Linked DNA regions of Homo sapiens. The protein of the gene in region 4 interacts with the protein of the main gene of each other region in a pairwise test. Each region holds a gene or a part of one and is shown on either strand. Other genes may lie near its edges. The genes, in order: TBC1D2, ZNF510, MAPKAPK3, PDGFRL and FBP2.

Region 1 (3,515 bases), on a different chromosome or scaffold from region 4:
GTCCTTGTCCTCAGCCGCCGCCAGGTATGCGCTGGACGCCCGCTTCTCCTGCTGGGCGGCCTCCAGTGCCTTGTGCAGGATCTTCACTAGCTCCTGGGCAGGGAGAGGGAAGAATCTTGTGAGCTCAGGGAGGGCCTGCTGGGCGCCACAGTGGGGTATATGTTATCAGTAGTTCTCCTAACAACCGTGAGAGGTGCCCAGCAGCATCCCTGCGGCATCTCATCCTGACACTCACTTTCTCCTTCTCTGTTCAAGTGACTGTTAGCTGGGCACATGGTTCCCCAGCTTAAAACTGCATCTCCCAGCCAAGCCATGGTGAGGTGTAGCCAAGTAACTATTCTGCCTAAATGGGAAATGAAAAGTGAGATGGGCAGCTTCTGGGTCCTACCTTTAAAACCACTAGATACACGCTCCTCTGGTCCAGTTCTCTTTGCTTCTGGCTGGGAAGTGGCAGGAACTAGAGTGGCCGCCTCAGACCCACAGCAGAAGGTACATGTTGAGAAAGGGCTGCCCCCCAGCTCAGAGTTGCTCACCTACCTCTGGGTTCTTTAATGTGAATGAGAAACCTCTCACTCGTTTTGGGCCACAGTGCTTTGAAACTTTTTTTTTTTGAGATAGCGTCTCCCTCTGTTACCCAGCCTGGAGTGCAGTGGCACAGACATGGCTCACTGTAGCCTCAATCTCCTGGGCTCAGCTGATCCTCCCACCTTAGCCTCTCAAGTAGCTGGGACCACAGGAACATGCCAACACACCAGGCTAATATTTGTATTTTTTTGTAGAGAAGGGGTTTTGCCATGTTGCCGGGCTGGTCTCAAACTCCTGGACTCAAATGATCTGCCCACCTTGGCCTTCCAAAGTGCTGGGATTACAGGTATGAGTCACCACACCCAGTGGAGATGTTTTTGTCACAGCAGCTGAACCCATACCCTGACATATACACATCCATTTCAGGGATGAACAAACTGAGGCCCAGCAGAGAGTAGAATGGAATTCAATCTCAATTGGCTAGATTCCAAAGCCTGTGCTCAGTAACTAAGAAAACCAGGGGTGGCAGCTATGTGGCATTACTCTTCCCTCTCATCCCTGTGGCAGACATCACTAATTAATCTCCCATACTTCTTCCTGCACAGCCTACCCTAGTTGAGGCCTCAGAATCATTCTCAATATAGCAGCCAGTCACTACCAATCAAGTTGAGTCAGGGTTAAAGAGGAAATACACTGGCAATCCCCATGTAAAGCCACACACAGAGGACCTCATTCAAGCCATTTGTGCCTAGTTACCTTCAGCCCACCAGCCGATGCCTGCAAAGCTGGTGGAAGGAACTCTAGAAAGTTCAGAAACAATAGAGCTTGATTTATTCCTCAGCAGGGGCAACTAATTCACACAGGAACTCAAGGTCTGCTCAGCTCCCTGTGCCTTTAAGCCTGTAATTTCCCCAGGGAGGGCCACGCCTGGACTCAGGCCTATCTGTCCCAAAGCAGGGATGTGAATTTGTTCTGGGCCAGGATCAGGACATCAGCAGCCAGGTCCACGTGGAACTAATACCAGGTAGGTATGACTTTCAGGCAACACTGCCCTGCTCTGTGCTTCTCATTTGGAAAAACATGGTTTCCTAGAGACATGTCAACTATACCACACCAAAGTATTAAAATGAGTGGATTGGCTGGATAGCCTTATTTGCTAAGAACAATTCTATATTGGAGGAAAACTGCCAAAAACCATGACTTTTTTGGAGAAGCTAATGACAAGACCACATTAGCCTGCATCTTCTGAAACCTTAGGACTAGTGACCATCCTTTCTCTGGTTCTCTCTTTTCCTTCCACATGCCCATCCATCCATCCAACCTTTACCAAGCACCACTCGGTGCCAGGCCAGGCCCTGAGCCAGGTGCCGTGGCCCAGAGAGGGAGTGGTGAGAGTTCCCACCTCCAAGGACTGCAAAGGCTGGTGGGAATGAACATGACCCACCACAGTGGAATGATCTACTGCAAGTCAGGGGAACAAGGGTGTTTGTGGGAAAGGCAATGACTTCTGTCTGGGGTGGAGGTTGTGGGGAATACCAGTCCAGAGCATTTAAAAGAAACTGTGAAGAATGAGAAGGGCCAGAGATGGTCGAGCAGCAGGTGGGAGATGAGGGTGGGGATGGCCCTCCAGATGTGGCCAAGCTACAGCCCCAGTAAAGACCTGGAGGAAGGAAAGAGCTACCATGGAGCTGTGGGAGCCCTGGGGTGTGGCAGGAAGTTGGGGTGAGGACAGCACAGTGATTGCAAACCAAAAGGGAATGTTTGGAACGTCCAGAATGAAGAAGTCAGCTTCTCAGGGCTCAGTGGAGAGAGATTAACATTCCTGTGGTTCCAGGAAAACTGGGGGCCTAGGCCATTTTCTGCTTCAGCTGAGATTTGGAGGTTACCTTGGATGACTGCCCAGGGAAATAACCAACAGACATCATTGTTCAGACTTGCCCTAGGAGCAGGACCAGTGGGTGTCTTTCCCTCAATTTGGGGAGTTAGTTGACTCTGAAGCTTATTTCATTACATCTAGCTGTCTCCTTCCCGCATTTGGCTCCCAGAATCTAAGACTGAGACACCAGCCCAGGAGGCTCTCCTCCCACCCCCAGAATTCTTGTACCAGAATAAAATAGGCTTAAAAGAACGGAACCAGGGCAGAGGGAGGGAGCCTCAGTAGGACTTGTAAGATGAGGAGTGAGAATGTCATGAATTCAAGAAACCTAAAGTCTGGATTATAAGCAATGTCTTAGGACCAATTCTTAAAAATAGGTTGGGCCGGGCGTGGTGGCTCACGCCTGTAATCCCAGCACTTTGGGAGGCCAAGGCGGTCGGATCACGAGGTCAGGAGATCGAGACCATCCTGGCTAACATGGTGAAACCCCGTCTCTACTAAAAATACAAAAAAATTAGCCAGGCGTGGTGGCGGGTGCCTGTAGTCCCAGCTACTCAGGAGGCTGAGGCAGAATGGTGTGAACCCGGGAGGCGGAGCTGGCAGTGAGCTGAGATCGCACCACTGCACTCTAGCCTGGGCGACAGAGCGAGACTCCATCTCAAAAAAAAAAAAAAGAAAAGAAAAGAAAAGAAAAATAGAGGGGTTGATGAAATTAAGCTTTTTGAAGTGTTTTTTTTTCTTTTCTTTTTTTTTTTTTTTTTTTTGAGACAGGGTCTCACTCTGTTGCCCAGGCTGGAGTGCAGTGGCGCAATCACGGCCCACCGCAGCCTCAACCTCCTGGGCTCAAGAGATTCTCTTGCCTCAGTCTCCCTTGTAGCTGGGACTACAGGCATGCACCACATTGCCCAGCTAATTATTTTATTTTCTGTAGAGACAGGGTCTCCCTATGTTGTTCGGGGTGGTCTTGAACTCTTGGGCTCAAGAGATCCTCCCACCTTGGCCTCCCAAAGTGTTGGGGTTATAGGTGTGAGCCACCATGCCCGGCCCAAGTGGTACTTTTAATATTTCTCAATCGAGTTGTTTGGTTCATCTCAGATTTTGATACGTGGTCATA
Region 2 (4,280 bases), on a different chromosome or scaffold from region 4:
TCGAACTCCTGACCTCAAGCAATCTGCCCGCCTTGGCCTCCCAAAATGCTGGGATTGCAGGGGTGAGCCACCAGGCCTGGCCCCTTGCTGTTTTTCATCAGGCGATTGTAGACTATTTTCCTATTGATTTATTTAAAATGTATGTCTTCTTTGACTAACAACTTAAACAGAATTAACATTAATATTCTGTTAATATTATTTACACCAATAGAAAACACAAAACTGAAAAAAAGGAGATGCTGAAAGACTATTTTAAAATATTTTTGTTCTAACTTATAGTTTCTCAAAAGACTTTCGATAAGACACTTCTGGTGACTCACCTGTGACAGAGTGAACAGCACTGTGCTTTGCTCCAAGCTCTGTCCTGAGTGACCATGGACAAACTGTTCATCCTAGGTTCAATACTTTTTAAGGTTTTAAGAGTCAGAAATAGAAATCCTTTCCTGTATTATCATTTTTGTGATTCTACAGGTTCAGGATAGAGGCAACCTTAGTAAATTTCTAGATGCTACATGTGATGGATGTTGTGTGAGAGTGACTCAGAATCTGGAAAGAGTGAGGCAAGAATGAAGAAAATGGGGGCTCTATGAGGAGGATTAGAGACAATTTCCTCAGCCCTGGCTGGTTATGCCTTCCTTGGAGACCATGGAGAAAAGCCCTCCAGTAATGTGGCTTTTCCTGTGCAGTCTGACAGTCACCCACGCCTCTCAACCCCAGCTTACCACCTTCTGCAAGTTGGCCCACAGTGTTCAGTGTCACACAATCTGTGATGGCTTCTGGATGTGGCGACATCACCAAGTCTGGTGCTCTCTGGGCAAGGGGATGAAGAAGTGCCGCTGGTTGGGCAAATCAAGACCTGCTCCTTTCTGGGTTCTTCTGCATCTGTTTGGAAGCCCTGGTGAGGAGGTCTCTGTTCTGTCAGAGAGCAGTTCTTCGGTGGGACTCCTGTTCCTGGGGCTCCCTCCTTCCTGCAACATAAAGAGCTGCTTTGCTCCAGAGAAGCTGGGGCTGATGCCTGGGTAACAAATTTATTTTAGTTGAAACTTTCATGGAAAACAGTGTTCTTCACGTCAGCACAACTTCCATTTTGGGCTGGATAATCCTCTGACATAAGGAGTGGTCCTGTGCATTGCAGGATGTTTAAGAGCATTTCTAAACATGCACTAGACACTAGGACACCCCTTCTCCCTGTTGTGACAATCAGAAACGTCTCCAGGCCGGGCGTGGTGGCTCACGCCTGTAATCCCAGGACTGTGGGAGGCCAAGGCAGGTGGATCACCTGAGGTCAGGAGTTCAAGATAAGCCTGGCCAATATGGTGAAACCCCACCTCTACTAAAAATACAAAAAATTAGCTGGGCATGGCCATGCATGCTTGTAATTCCAGCTGAGATTACAAGCTGGGAGGCTGGGGCAGGAGAATCAGTTGAACCTGGGAGGTGGAGGTTGCAGTGAGCCAAGATCACACCACTGCCCTCCAGCCTGGGCGACAGAGAGAAACTCAGTCCCCTCTCCCCCCACCAAAAAAGTCTCCAACATTTCCAAAGTTCCCTAGGGAGCAAAATCCTCCTGGTGAAGAAGTGACCTAAGGCCTTAAACCTGATTCTCTTGGCATTAATTAGAACCCTGCTATCCATGACTACAGCCTCCAATCACATCAACTACTGAGCACTGGAAATGTGGCTAGGACCACATGTTGAAATAACATTTTGGATACACTGAGAAAACCACAGTATGTTCTTAAAATTAATTTCATGTTTTAGATTTTCATGTAGCTACTAGTTTAACATTTAAAATTACGTATGTGACTCATCTTCACTGCCCTAGAATATCAGACTGACTTCTAAAGACAGAGACAGGAGGGACAGCACAGGAGGTGGCAGGGGCCTCAGTCTAACCCAGAGGCTCTGGAGACATCCCAGAAACCCCACAACAAATACACTTGCCACATAGTAAGATTCTGTCCACACTGACTTCACAATCATTGTCCTGGGGTTTTGGGGACAATCACTCAGTGCTGTGAAGGCTGCAATGCTGGGTTAGGTAGGTAGGCCATTACAAACAGCCTGATTCGGGGAGTAAAGTGTTTATGTATTGACATCCTAGCTCTCTCATCCTTTGTGAGCTTGGCTCTATCTTTTCACTCCTCCTTCTTCATTTTTAATGATATAAATAGGGTGGTTGTGAGAATTAAACGAAATACTACATGAAAAGAACAAAGTGTCTTCCAAATATAACGGGAATCAACATTTACATGCTGCTTAGTAACTAGCGCTTAGCTAAATGCTTTACAGGGGATGGCTTACCTCTGAACGACACAAAGCAGTTTTTACTAATATCCTCATTTTCAAACGCTCAAGTGACAGAGCCAAAATTCACGAGGTCCTTCTAGCTCCTAGGCTCGGCCTCTCACCGCAGACCCACGGGCTGTACGCGCTTTGTGGCAGGTTCATGGTCAATACAATAAACGCGCATTCCCCTCCTGAAGCCAGCACCGCGTTTTCCGACGCCTGGCTGCATTCTGGCGCCCATACCTCGGCCCGCACCGAGCATCTTCCAACTAGGACTCAGCCCCACCTAACGCCCCCGGAGCCCGCCCCCACCGGCCCTTCTCAGGCTGAGGTCCCGGGCCGGCCGAGGCACAGGGAGCGACGGCCTGCTTTGGGGGAGTTCCCGGGACGTCGCGTTCCCGCCCCCTGGACACTAGCACATCCCTCCCTGCAGGTCCGCAATCCGCGTGGAGGCCCGGCGCTCTCACCTGAGCTGCGAACCCTCTGCACCAGCAAACACTAACAGGGAGAAGCCGGAAAGTGGGGTTGACTGCACATGCGCAGACGAAAACGCGCATATCCGTTCCCAGCATGCTGCGCGGTAACCCATAACATGCAAGACTACGTTTCACATGCAGTACGGCGCCAGCTGTCAGTGTTTTTTTGTTTGTTTTTCCCCCAAGATTTATGGCGTAATAACATGGACCGTCCTGATAACTGGAGCCCGGGTTCTGTCAGAGCCCCAGAGGTTGTGGGTTAGACTTGATGACATAACAGCAAATGCAGCGTGTGGTTACAGAAAGCAAGAGCCGCGGAAGACGTTTGAAAACAATTGGGAAAATTTGTATACGGACTGGAAATTAGAATTATTAATTAATTGTGGCAGCATTGGGATTATGTAGGTAATCTTGCTTATTCATAAAGAGATGTCTATGTAAGTATTTAGGATTGTATTATGTTTGTAAGTTTTTGGGTTTTTTGGTTTTTTTTTTTTTTTTTGAGACGGAGTCTTACTCTGTCGCCCAGGCTGGAGTGCAGTGGCGCGATCTCGGCTAACTGCAACCTCCGCCTCCCGGGTTCAAGCGATTCTCCTGCCTCAGCCTCCCAAGTAGCTGGGACTACAGGCGCCCGCCACTACGCCCAGCTAATTTTTGTATTTTTAGTAGAGACGGGGTTTCACCATGTTGGCCAGGCTGGTCTCGAACTCCTCACCTCAAGTGATCCGCCTGCCTTGGCCTCCCAAAGTGCTGGGTATACAGGCGTGAGCTACCACTCCCGGCCCGTTTGTAAGTTCTTTTTAAAAAATAATTAGAAATGGGAAGTATGGCAAAATGTTAAGAATATCTACTTCTAGAATATGGACATGCTTATTGACTATGTGTTGGAAAATTTTATAATATAAAGTTGATAAAGGGAAAATTGGGACTGTAATGTTACAAGTGTGCCTTTTAACTTAGAGCTGCCACAAAAATACATAAACAGCTTTGTGAATAAAGCCGTAAAATGTAACAAATACTAGAAAATGGAAACCATTATTAACATAAAAGAATAATATTTGTGATCCTCAGTTTATCTCTGGGGGGAAAAAAAGAAAAAGCAAGTAAGCTGTTCAGCATTACATAATACCTGAAGTACACACAATCCCAACTAAGAAAACCGTTATCCACAAATTATGCATCTCCTAGAGATGAGCTTGCTTAAATCTTATGTGGTATGCTTCTGAAATCAGGAACCAAATTAGGAACCTCTCAGCACAGTATTTTATGACACTCTTTTTAGTAACACACATACACTCACACACACACGGTTGATACTTTCTAACAGGTTATTTTATATGGCAATGATAAGTTTTGATTAGCAAGAAAAAAGATTAATGGCAACAGTAAACTAGTGCAGTATATATGAATCAAGGTATAAAATTTTACTGTTGACACTGAAAAACACTTTAATAGATACTGGAGGAAAAGACTAACATTTGTTTTTAAAAATTCTAATCATCTATGTTTTCTAAG
Region 3 (3,515 bases), on a different chromosome or scaffold from region 4:
AAAAGAAAAGAAAAAGAAAAAAAGGTGCTGGGAGGACTTTCCAGAGAGAGAAAGAGAGAGAGAGAGAGAGAGAGAGAGAGAGATGGAGACAGAGAGAGAGAGAGATTGATCGATCTGAATTGAGCCCTGAAGTTTCCCCAAAAAGAGGGAGTTGACCCAACAGAGAGGATGAGGCAAGAATGCACATGACAGGGACCAGCACAGACCTAGACACAGAGGCCTGGGGGAGTAAGGCCTGTTTGGGAACAACATATATATTTTTCTGGCCAGAACAAAGTGGTTTTGGCCCAGAGGTGGCAGGAAGTGAGGTGGGAAAGGAAGGCAAGCCCTGCGTGCTGGGGGAGGACATTTATCTGGAAGATGTGAGGAAGTGTCTGTGGCCACAGGTGGATTAGAGTCATAAGGGGAGAGGCAGGGCTGAGGACCCTAATGAAAGCATTCCAGCTGTGAGCTTGGACTTTTAAGAGAGAAGAGGAGGACTCTGATGTGGGAGTGAGATGCCACAAGGCAGGCAGTGAGGAGGGAGTGTGGGAGCCAGCCTGGGAGGCCTGACAGGAGATGGTCAGGTCAGACTGGGGAGGAGAGAACCAGGCAGGGGGAGGGGGAGGAGGCAAAGAAGGAACCCGGTGCAGGGAGGGAGGATGGTACCTCTTGGCTCCTGTGGCTGAGGATTGGGGTACCCCTAGCTAGGGCCGCCACAGGACATGGTGGAGGCAAGTGGGGGGCACTGAGCTTTCTGGTCCCAGTGCTGAGAAAGAAGCTGGTGATTGGGAATTGTGCGGGCACTAACCTGAGGGGTGTTCTGGAAGGCAAGGGCAGCATGAGCAAGGATCCATGGTGTCCAGGCAGGAGTGTCTGCCCACAGCAGCCTTGACGCACACCCCCAGCCTGCTCTGGGTAATGGAGCAGGGGCACAGAGCTGCTAGAGGGCTTGTCCAGCCCCTGGCTCTCTGTATTCCTTGCACTGCCTGTATTCCCAGGCTAGGGTTGAGGGGAGCAGCTCCAGAAAAGGAGGGACAGCCAAGGGGCAGCAGGCTCGAGAAACCACTGCCTGCCTCTCCCCTCTCTGGGACACTGCCCTGACCCAGTTTGTCTTTACCTAGAGAGCGTGCATGGTCACAGAGCCTGCCCCTAACAGTGCCCTGTGTAAAGTGGCCTGGCTCTCCCCATCCTGCAGAGGAGGAAATTAAGGCTGGGGCAGCCCAGGGTCCTATGGCTGCTGAGCAGTGCTGATCCGAGCCCCGGTCTTGAGCATCAGCCCTGGTCCCCAGCCCTCCTCCATTAGGAAACACAGTGTCACAGATGGTCCTTGAGTGAGCAACCCTTTTTGGGGGTGGCTTGTCCCTGCTGTCCCCATTCTGGGCCATCTCCTCATGCATGCTGACTTCTTCTTCTCCCCCTACAGCAGGGCCACTGTGAGGCCTTGTTCATTTCTGGTGCTGGTTGGCAGCCACAGTCCAGGGCTGAGTTAACCCGAGCAAGGATCCTGATGCCCGCCCACTGGATGCTTGCCTTGGCTGGGATGCACCCTGTGGGGATGACTCTGCTATTATACCATTTTACAGAGTTGTGGGCTGCAGCTTGGAGCTGTGAATGTATGCCTGAGGTCACACCGAGTCATTGGAGGAATTCAATCCCAAACCCACATCTCACTCCACTCAGCTGTCATCTCCCTCAACTAGGGTCCTCCCTTCCCCCAGTCTCTACCTCTGGGTCCTTACCGGTGATCTGTAAGCATGGAATGAGGGTGGAGGCTGGGCAGCTAGGTCACCTTGAGATGGCCCCACCTCTCTCACAGTGCGATGACATTGTCGCCCTGGTACTGCATAGCAGCTCCCAGGAAGGCTATAAAGTTACCTTGGGAGCTGGGTACTGACTGGGTGGTCATGACCAAGCAACTCATTTTAGAAGCACTTTTCTTGGTAGTGAGAGTTTTGTTCTCATGCCCACTCCTGGAGAATCTGAAGTCTTAATTACTTTTACCCCTACAGGAGTGTGGCCTTGTCTCCCTCCACTCTGGGCCAGTTTCTTTGTGGGAGATAGATTGACAGACACAGGCCTCAACCTCTCCTGCAGGAAGTCTTCCTTCTCACTCCAGCACTCTCCTGATCATGCTGAGTCCTGTAGGGCAGATTTGCGTGTTAGTGCACCCTCTCCCCTCCCCAGCCTTTCCCCAGCACCTTCTGCTTCTACACTTACATTTCTCATAGATGCCCAGGGTGAGAATCACAAGGGAGGCACCAAGGGCCTACTATGTACCAGGTGCTATCCTGTACAATTTACATGTACAATTTCCAACCCTAGCCTAGGAAATGGAACAGCTGTGTCATCCTTATGGTAAAAATGAGGCTCAAGGGATGTGTGGCCCCTGGCTTGGGGTCCCATGGCTGCTGTGTGATTAGAGTGGGGTTATAAAACCCACTCAATTTCCATCTGAGAAGGGAAGCAAGGGCTTCTTTGGCCTCTGAGCCCCTCGAAGCAGTCAGCCACCTCCTACGGACTCCTTGAACTACCTGCCAAGCTGCTTGAGCCCAGGACTGACCCTCAAGTCCAGAGGCTCACTGGACCACAAGTCAGAGAAACCTAGATTCAAATTCTCATTCTGCTCCTTATAAGCTGTGTGACCTGGGGCAGGTCACAGGCCTCAGAGCTTATATGTTTTTGTCTGCAAAATGATGGTAGAGGGCTCTGAGCCTGACACTTTCTATGTGCACCCACCTACAGCTCCTGTATGACAGCCCCAAGGCCCGGCAGGAGGTAGACCATCACTGGCAGGCTTCTGGCGGCCCCCATATTGTCTGCATCCTGGATGTGTATGAGAACATGCACCATGGCAAGCGCTGTCTCCTCATCATCATGGAATGGTATGCTGGCCTGCCCTGTCTCCACACCCCCTCGGCATCCCTGTGGCCCTCAGGCTCCCTGCCACGCTTCTAGGGGCTTTCTTTGTTTTTCAGGTAGCAGATCTGGGTGCCACTGTAGCCCCTGAGGGGCAATGGAGCAGGCAGCCGCAGGCCCTGCCTGTGGATCTATGGAGTTGGCCATAAGGACATTCCCTCAAGGGTGGGCAAGAAACCACAGGGGTTAATATGGCCTCCCTGAGTGTGATTTCTACTCTGTGAGGAGGACTGGAAGAGCTGTCAGAGAAGGCTCCCAATCCCTGAATATGGATGGATGGGGGATTTGGGGAAGAACAGGACCCACGCAGTTCCCTCAGCTTTCTCTCCTTTTGACCTGGGTATGTGCTCCCATGGTCCCACCAGGAACTGGGTGCTTGGGGCCTAGAACCAGGAGCCAGTGGCCTTTTCCACCCTGGGCTTCTTCCTGTAACACCATGGCTCAGCACCAGCCATCCTTGGACCGGTTAGCCAGTTCTTCAGATTTGGGGTTCAGATCCTGCCTCTGCTACCCACTAGCTATGTGACCGTGGGCAGCTCTTAACCTCTCTGAATCTCTGTAACTCAGATGTAAGATGTGGGAAAGATCTTAATGTAGCATTTACCCTGTGCTTGACT
Region 4 (3,515 bases):
GTCTGAGAGCAATATAGCCAGATCTCTAAGAAGGTAAGGACAGAGACACAATGACGAGGATTCTCTAACCAAGAGCCTTTGACACTTTCGTGTCTTCGTTTATTTTTGAGAAAAAAAAAGAGTAAAAATTAGTACAGAAATATTTTAATGAAAAAAAGAATTCTAAAGTTCCTTATTGTTTATGAATGCACATAATGAATGCTTTGAAGCATTTAGGATCTTGGCTGGCATGTTTGACATACAAAACCATTTCTGATCCTTAAAACACAGAAAGAGAAAAGTTTGAGGGCAAGAGAGAGAGATCTGGTGGTCAGAGGACTGATGGTTTTCAAACCTAGACAAGGTTTTAAAACCCTTTCTTTGTGGTGCTCAATGAAGGGAGAGGAAAGATAAAGAAGTAAAGATACAATTTAAGGAAGTGGTAAGTGGCATCGAGAATCATGAATCAGGGTCTATTAGGTTCCTAGGGCTGCCATAACAAAGTACCACGGAATGGGAGGCTTTAAAACCGCAGAAGTTTGTTTGCTCACAGTCCAGAGGCTTGTAGTCCAAAGTCAGTGTCAGCAGCACCACACAGCTTCTAAGATGCGGGTAGAATCCTTCCCTGCCTCCACTAGCTTCTGGTTGTGGTCAGCAACCCCTTGGCATTTTTTTTAGCTTGTGGCCACATCACTCCAATCTCTGCCTCTGTTGCCATGTGACCATCTTCTCCCCGTGTCTGTCTTTACATGGCATTTTCATACGTGTGTGTGTGTGTGTCTCCTCATAAGAACATCAGTCCTATTGGAGGAGAGCCTACCCTAATGACCTCATGCTAACTTGATTACATTTGCAAAGACTCCATTCCTCAATGAGGTTACATTCACAGATACCTGGGAGTTAGGACTTCAGCATATCTTTTTAGGGGACACAATTCAACCAGTAAGACAGGGTGAGACATGGAGAGGACTGAGGCGGGGTGTGAGGATGCCGTTTGAATGGATAGCCATAAGCCTGCCTGAAACAAGGAAGCAAACCCCGGAGGTAGCTGACAGCAAAGCTGTGCACTCCAGGGGCACCACAAAGGCAATAGCTTCAAGATGGGCTTGTACCGGTTGCCAGTGTGGCTGTGGCTGTGATGCGTGGGACGGGAGCTGGCCAAGCCTTGTAGGGCATGGGAAGATTTAGGGCTGGCTTCTAGATGAGATGAAAGTCACTGGAGGCTTCTGAACGAAGAAGTACCCATAATTTGATTTATGTTTTCAAAGGTAGGTGCTATGGTTTGCCCCCACCACATCTTATGTTGAATTTTGATCCCCCATGTGGTGGTGGTGGTGGGAGGTAGGGCCTCATGGGAGGTGTTTGGGCCTTGGGGGTAGATCCTTCATGAAGAGATTAATGCCTTCCCTTGGGGATGTGTGGATTCTGTATTATTTCCAGCAAGAACTGCTTGTTAAAGAGAGTCTGGTCCCTCCTCCTCCCACCGCACCATGTGATCTCTGCACTGCTAGTTATCGTTGCCCTCTGCCCTGAGTGGAAGCAGTCTGAGGCCTTCATTGGAAGCAGATGTTGGTTCCATGCTTCTTGTACAGCCTGCAGAACGATGAGCCAAATAAACCTCTTTTCTTTATAAACAACCCAGCCCTACGTATTCCTCTATAGCAATGCGAAATGAACTAACACAGAAAATTGGTACCAAGGAGTGGGATATTGCTATAAAGATACCTGAAAGTGTGGAAGCAGCTTTGGAACTGGGTACTGGGCAGAGAATCGGAAGAGTTTGGAGGGCTCAGAAGAAAACAGCAAGAGGAGGGAAAGTTTGGAATTTCTTAGAGATTGGTTATATAGTTGTGACTAAACTGTTGATAGAAATATAGACAGTAAAGTTCATGCTGACAAGGTCTGAAATGGAAACAGATAACTTATTGGGAGCTGGAGAAAAGTCACCCTTGTTAGGCCTTAGCAAAGAACTTGGCTGCATTGTGTCCATGCCCTAGGGATTTTGGAAGGCCACACTTAAGAGTGATGTCCTAGGGTATCCTAAAGAAGAAATTTTTAATCAGCAAAGTGCTCAAGTAGTGGTGGGTGTGGCTGGGTTTAAAAGCTTAGGATCAGCCGGGCAGGGTGGCTCACGCCTGTAATCCCAGCACTTTGGGAGGCAGGCGGATCATGAGGTCAGGAGATCGAGACCAGCCTGGGCAACATGGTGAAACCCTGTCTCTATTACAATACAAGAAGTTAGCCTGATGTCGTGGTGCGCACCTGTAGTCCCAGCTACTTGGGAGGCTGAGGCAGGGGAGTCGCTTGAACTCGGGAAGAGGAGATTGCAGTGAGCTGAGATCAGGCCACTGTACTGCAGCCTGGTGACAGAGTGAGACTCTGTCTCAAAAAAAAAAAAAAAAAAAACTTAGGCTCAAGATCAATTACAGCAGCAAAGGAATGACCTAAAGGTAGAATTTATTATGAAAAGGGAAGCAGAGAGTAAAAGTTTGGAAAATCTGAAGCCTGGCCATGTGGCAGAGAATGAAAGAGCATTTTGGGAAAAGAATCCAAGGGCACAGTTGAGAGACTGCTTGAATCATGCTAGTAGCTAAGAAAATAAGAGAAAGGCCTTATAGCCATTTTGGAAATCTTTGAGGAGCCCCTCCCATCCCAGGCCCAGAGACTCAGGAGAATAGAATGGTTTTGGGGGGCAGGCCCTGCTGCTCTTCTGCCGTGCACCACCTCGGGATGCTACTGCCCCTATCTCAGGTGCACCAGCTCTAGCCTTCACTTAAAAGGTCCCAGGTGTGGTTCCAGATGGGCGAATAAGAGCAGAAGAGGCCAATAAGCAGAACAGAGAGGTTGCTCCAGAGGGCACAAGTTATAAATAAACCTTGGAGGCTTCCACATGTTGTCAAGTCTGCATATTCCCAGAATGCAAGAGTGATGGAGGCTTAGCTTCCACCTAGATTTCAGAGGATGTATCAGAAAGCCTGAGTGTGCGAGCAGAAGCCTGCTACAGGGGCAGAACTAACACAGAGAGTCCCTACCAGGGCACTGCCTAGGGGAGCCATGGGAACAGGGCTCATGTGGGGATCCCAGAATTAGAGAGCCACCAGCAGTATGCACCCTCACCTTGGAAAACAAACAGACATTCAACTCCAACCTGTCAGATCAGCCATGTGGGCTTCACCCAGCCAAGTTAGAGGGGTGGGGAGGGCGAAGGCTTGTTTTTGATTTTCCAGGCTCACAGCTGTAAGGAACTTGCCTCAAGCTCAGATGAGACTTTGGACTTTTGAGTTGATGCTGGAACAAGTTAAGATTTCGGGGACTATTGGGAAAGGATGCTTGTAATTTGCAGTATTTGAAAGACATGAGTTTTGGGGGGCCAGAGGTGCAATGCTATGATTTGGATATTTGACCTCCTCCTAACCTCATGTTGAAATTTGATCACCAGTGTTGGTGGTGGGGCCTAATGGGAGGTGTTTGAGTCGTGGGGGTGGACCCCTCATGAATGGCTTGTTGCCCTCCTGGAGGTAATAGAACTAATAGCG
Region 5 (4,313 bases), on a different chromosome or scaffold from region 4:
GAGCTAGATATAAAGACTCTCCACGTCCCCACCAGACTCAGGAGCCCAGCTGGCTTCACCTAGTGGATCCCGCACCGGGGCTGCAGGTGGAGCTGCCTGCCAGTCCTGCGCCGTGCGCGCGCATTCCTCAGCCCTTGGGTGGTCGATGGGACTGAGCGCTGTGGAGCGGGGGGTGGCGCTCGTCGGGGAGGCTCGGGCCGCACAGGAGCCCATGGAGTGGATGGGAGGCTCAGGCATGGCGGGCTGCAGGTCCCGAGCCCTGCCCCGCGGGAAGGCACCTAAGGCCCAGCGAGAAATCGAGCGCAGCGCCAGTGGGCCAGCACTGCTGGGGGACTCAGTACACCCTCCGCAGCCACTGGCCCGGGTGCTAAGTCCCCCATTGCCGGGGGCCAGCAGGGCTGGCTGGCTGCTCGGAGTGCGGGCCCGCCAAGCCCACGCCCACCCGGAACTCCAGCTGGCCCGCAAGCGCCGCACGCAGCCCCAGTTCCCGCTCGCACCTCTCCCTCCACACCTCCCTGAAAGCTGAGGGAGTGGGCTCCAGCCTTGGCCAGCCCAGAAAGTGGCTCCCACAGTGCAGTGGGGGGCTGAAAGGCTCCTCAAATGCCGCCAGTGGTCATTGACGGCTCAGGCACAGGCAAATCTGGTCTGGGCTTGGAACCGCGGTAGTGACAGGCACTGTGCGTGTCTTACGGGGCCGGCACAGTTGAAATCGTCATCACATGCGCTCGCTAACTCTGCAACAACCCTAAGAGTTAGGGATGCTACTATACTCTCCATTTCACAAAGGGAATCTAAGGTCCTAGCAAGAGTAAATCACGCCCATTATCACACGGTAGGAAATGCCAAATTAATAAGCACCTCAATTATCCAGTTCCTAGGGCCACTTTGTCTCCTTGCTCAACCGCCATAAAGTCAGAGTTTTGCAGCAGATAAGCAAGACCCCTACCATGGCAGCCACTGCCTAGCCAAGAGCCCTGCACAGAGGGGGAGCCCAATTTATGTGGATGAATCACCCTGAGATGGACTCAGGCAACCGCATTGAGGATAGCAGGGTCCGCACAGGGAGAGGCAAAGTCCCTGTCTACCGTCACTCAGCAGGGCTGTCACCCACAGGAGCAGAACAGGGCACCGCCTGCCCTCACATTCTGGAAGGCGATTAAATGCAGAGCGTGGCTGTTATTGCCAAATGAGGTAAAAACAGAGCTGAAGCATCCACCCACAGGAAAAAAGCAAGGATAATGCACCGTTAACCTGGGTCCTGCTACTGGGTCACCACCCCTAAATAAATACAGTCTGTGGTGATCAAATGATAATTACATCTTGTAATCTAATGCTATCACTTTTTGTGTTAAAAGCACTTAATTGCTCAGAGTAAATATTTTAAATGATTGGACTTTGTTAGCTCCTCATTTTGAGTCTCTTTCATCCCCAAAATATGTGTTCCTTCAGCTCCTGAGAGGACCTCCCCTGGAATTACTACAAGGGAAGCCCAAAGAAAGCTGGGGTTTTGTTTGTTTGTTTGTATGTTTTGAGATGGAATCTCGTCCTGTCACCCAGGCTGGAGTGCAGTGGTACGATCTCGACTCACCGCAACCTCCATCTCCCAGGTTCAAGCGATTCTCCTGCCTCAGCCTCCCGAGTAGCCGGGACTACAGGCGCCCGCCACCACACCCAACTAATTTTTGTATTTTTAGTAGAGACAGGGTTTCAACATGTTGGCCAGGATGGTCTTGATCTCTTGACCTCATGATCCACCCACCTTGGCCTCCCAAAGTGCCAGGATTACAGACAGGAGCCACCGTGCCTGGCCACCGGATTCTTTTTATTACAGACTTAAACTGGACACTGGGCTGTGACCATCAGCAGTGTAATGTGAACCTGGCCTCATCTATGCTCGGATAAAGCACCAAAGAGAACCCTGTGGAAGAAACCTCTGCGCTCCCCTCCCAGGACTAGCACCTCCCGGCTTCCTGCACACCAAGTGGAGGTGAAGATAAAGAAAGAGTCACAGAGAAGAAATAAAACACGTAGCCAGCAAAACACTCCTTTAGATGATGAGAGAGCAGATGCAGGAAGGGGCTCTACCAAGCTTCCTATGTCGTACATAATTTCCAGCTCCTAACATATTTGCAAAGCTTATTACAATAAAACACTCATGTCTGCAAGAGGCATAAAGAGATATTTCACGTCACCCCTCTACTTCTTTGTTCCAGTGAGACTCTCTCTGTGCAAGTACAAGTCATGATAACACAATACATATTTTAATGCAACAAGCCACTGCACTTGGTATCATTATAATAACTGGAAAAATTATATGTGTATTTCTTCATAGCATGTTTTCGTTCCTTTCTCAAAACAAGTCAAAGGCCCCTTTATCAAAGCACACATGATAGGAACTTGAAATGCAGCTTCCATCTAGGGCACACAGGGCCAATAAGCTTTGGACCCAGTTTCTTGCCAAAGCACCTGCAGCTCCCACACCCCTGCCTGGGCCTGGGGTGCTCTGTGCCCCATGCCTGCTCCCCAGGACTCACAGGTGGGCCAGACCGGCCTTGCGCACAGCCGAGGAGATGGCTTTGATGGCCGTCAGCATTGAGTTCAGCAGCTGGGTGAGCTCCCCAGTCCCTTTGGCCTGACGCCCCTTTTCCATAACGTAGCGGGTCAGGGTGAGCATGTCGGTTTCGAAGGGGCTTCTGTCCGTCATTTTGGCTGGAATGCTTCAAATCCTTTTCTCCCGGCAGGAAACCTTGCTTACTTCTGAGGGCTGCAGCTCCGCAGTGTGGAAGCCGATAAGAAATCTGTGCTGGCCCTGCCAGGATCTCTAAGGAAAAGGGCCCAAAACACATGACTCAAACAACTGCTGGGGCCCTCAAGGAACTCCCTCTGGCCTCGGGGACTGTGGCAGCTGCCAGGGAGCCGCAGCAGTCTGTAAATAGGACGGGCTGCCCAGAAACATGGAGCTGCTTTCTCCTGCTGAGCACCCCCTTTCAAGATACCAAGAAGCCACCATTTAGGCACAGGTGGGAGGTGAGAAATCCAGTTGATTAAAAAATGATGCATAAAACCCTCTTATTCCAGGCTCCAAAGGATTCTTCACATATAGTGACTGCAGGGCCTGGCTCTCCCGAGGGCGGAGGTGGCAGATTCGCAGGTTCCTTATCTGGGACGTAGGTCACATAGTAACATAATGGCAACCCCAGAATTCCTTTAGCCAGGGTTTGGAATAAGTTAGGAAAGAATGCTTTTTATTTCCAGTAGGCATGTATGACCAGTGGATATCCACAGTAGAGATCCAGATCCGGAAGAAAACTATTATATTCCTAGCACAGTTCCTGGCACCAGTGTTATTTTGTCAATATCTCTGGATGTCCACTTTTGTAACAAAAATTGCTTGTTAAAAAGGAAACACTAAAGAAGTGGATAAAGACAAACCTCCTCACCACCAGCCCATTCTCCCATCCCACTCTCCAGAAATCACTGCTGCTAGGGCTGGTGGCGGTCTGTGCAGCCAGTAGGCACTGGTGGGGTGCATATGGTGGTGGAAGCACTTTCTCTAGGGCCAGCCAGACCTGGCTGTGAGTCCCAAGCTAGCTATCTGTTGGTTGCATGATTTGAGAAAGTTATTAAACCCCTTGGAACCTCAGTTGTCTCACTCTTAAATGAGCATAACCGTGAAGCATCCATCTTATAGAGTGGCTGCAATGAGATGTACCTAGTATAGTAGGTGCTCAGTACTTTGTTACCTATTATTGCCCTTCCAGTTTTTTTTTTTTTTTTTTTTTTTTTTTTTGAGATGGAGTCTCACTCTGTCGCCCAGGCTGGAGTGCAGTGGCGTGATCTCGGCTCACTGCAAGCTCCGCCTTCCAGGTTCACGCTATTCTCCTGCCTCAGCCTCCCGAGTAGCTGGGACTACAGGCGCCTGCCACGACGCTTGGCTAATTTTTTGTATTTTTAGTAGAGACGGGGTTTCACCGTGTTAGCCAGGATGGTCTCGATTTCCTGACCTCGTGATCCGCCCGCCTCGGCCTCCCAAAGTGCTGGGATTACAGGCGTGAGCCATCACGCCCAGCCGCCCTTCCAGTCTTTCAATGTGCTCACAACTATTGTGCAATCATACATAATCTCATTTCACAAAACAGTACAACATGCACATTTCTCTGAAGGTCTTTTCCCCTGACAGTTATGTCGATTAGAATGTGTTCAGCTGCAAGAAATAGAACAACTAGAGCAATTTACACGTGGGGGTTTATTTCCTCATAGACCAGGAGTGCACTAGGAGGTGGTGGCTGGTGTTCATTCAGCTGTTCTTGGTT

What was found.
Region 1: the proteins of PDGFRL (region 4) and TBC1D2 interact in a two-hybrid assay, tested with the Homo sapiens proteins (one large-scale study listed by BioGRID and IntAct).
Region 2: the proteins of PDGFRL (region 4) and ZNF510 interact in a two-hybrid assay, tested with the Homo sapiens proteins (one large-scale study listed by BioGRID and IntAct).
Region 3: the proteins of PDGFRL (region 4) and MAPKAPK3 interact in a two-hybrid assay, tested with the Homo sapiens proteins (one large-scale study listed by IntAct).
Region 5: the proteins of PDGFRL (region 4) and FBP2 interact in a two-hybrid assay, tested with the Homo sapiens proteins (one large-scale study listed by BioGRID and IntAct).

The regions. Positions count from the first base shown.
Region 1 is NC_000009.12:98,221,136-98,224,650, forward strand, and holds part of TBC1D2 (TBC1 domain family member 2A), read right to left. Parts: intron 94-3,515; coding exon 1-93. UniProt on the Homo sapiens protein: Acts as a GTPase-activating protein for RAB7A. Signal effector acting as a linker between RAC1 and RAB7A, leading to RAB7A inactivation and subsequent inhibition of cadherin degradation and reduced cell-cell adhesion.
Region 2 is NC_000009.12:96,775,278-96,779,557, forward strand, and holds the start of ZNF510 (zinc finger protein 510), read right to left. Parts: upstream 2,811-4,280; 5' UTR 2,757-2,810; exon of another isoform or gene 2,305-2,756; intron 969-2,304; 5' UTR 793-968; coding exon 723-792; intron 1-722. UniProt on the Homo sapiens protein: May be involved in transcriptional regulation.
Region 3 is NC_000003.12:50,637,642-50,641,156, forward strand, and holds part of MAPKAPK3 (MAP kinase-activated protein kinase 3), read left to right. Parts: intron 1-2,724; coding exon 2,725-2,864; intron 2,865-3,515. UniProt on the Homo sapiens protein: Stress-activated serine/threonine-protein kinase involved in cytokines production, endocytosis, cell migration, chromatin remodeling and transcriptional regulation.
Region 4 is NC_000008.11:17,580,216-17,583,730, forward strand, and holds part of PDGFRL (platelet-derived growth factor receptor-like protein precursor), read left to right. Parts: intron 1-3,515.
Region 5 is NC_000009.12:94,591,023-94,595,335, forward strand, and holds the start of FBP2 (fructose-1,6-bisphosphatase isozyme 2), read right to left. Parts: upstream 2,803-4,313; 5' UTR 2,705-2,802; coding exon 2,535-2,704; intron 1-2,534.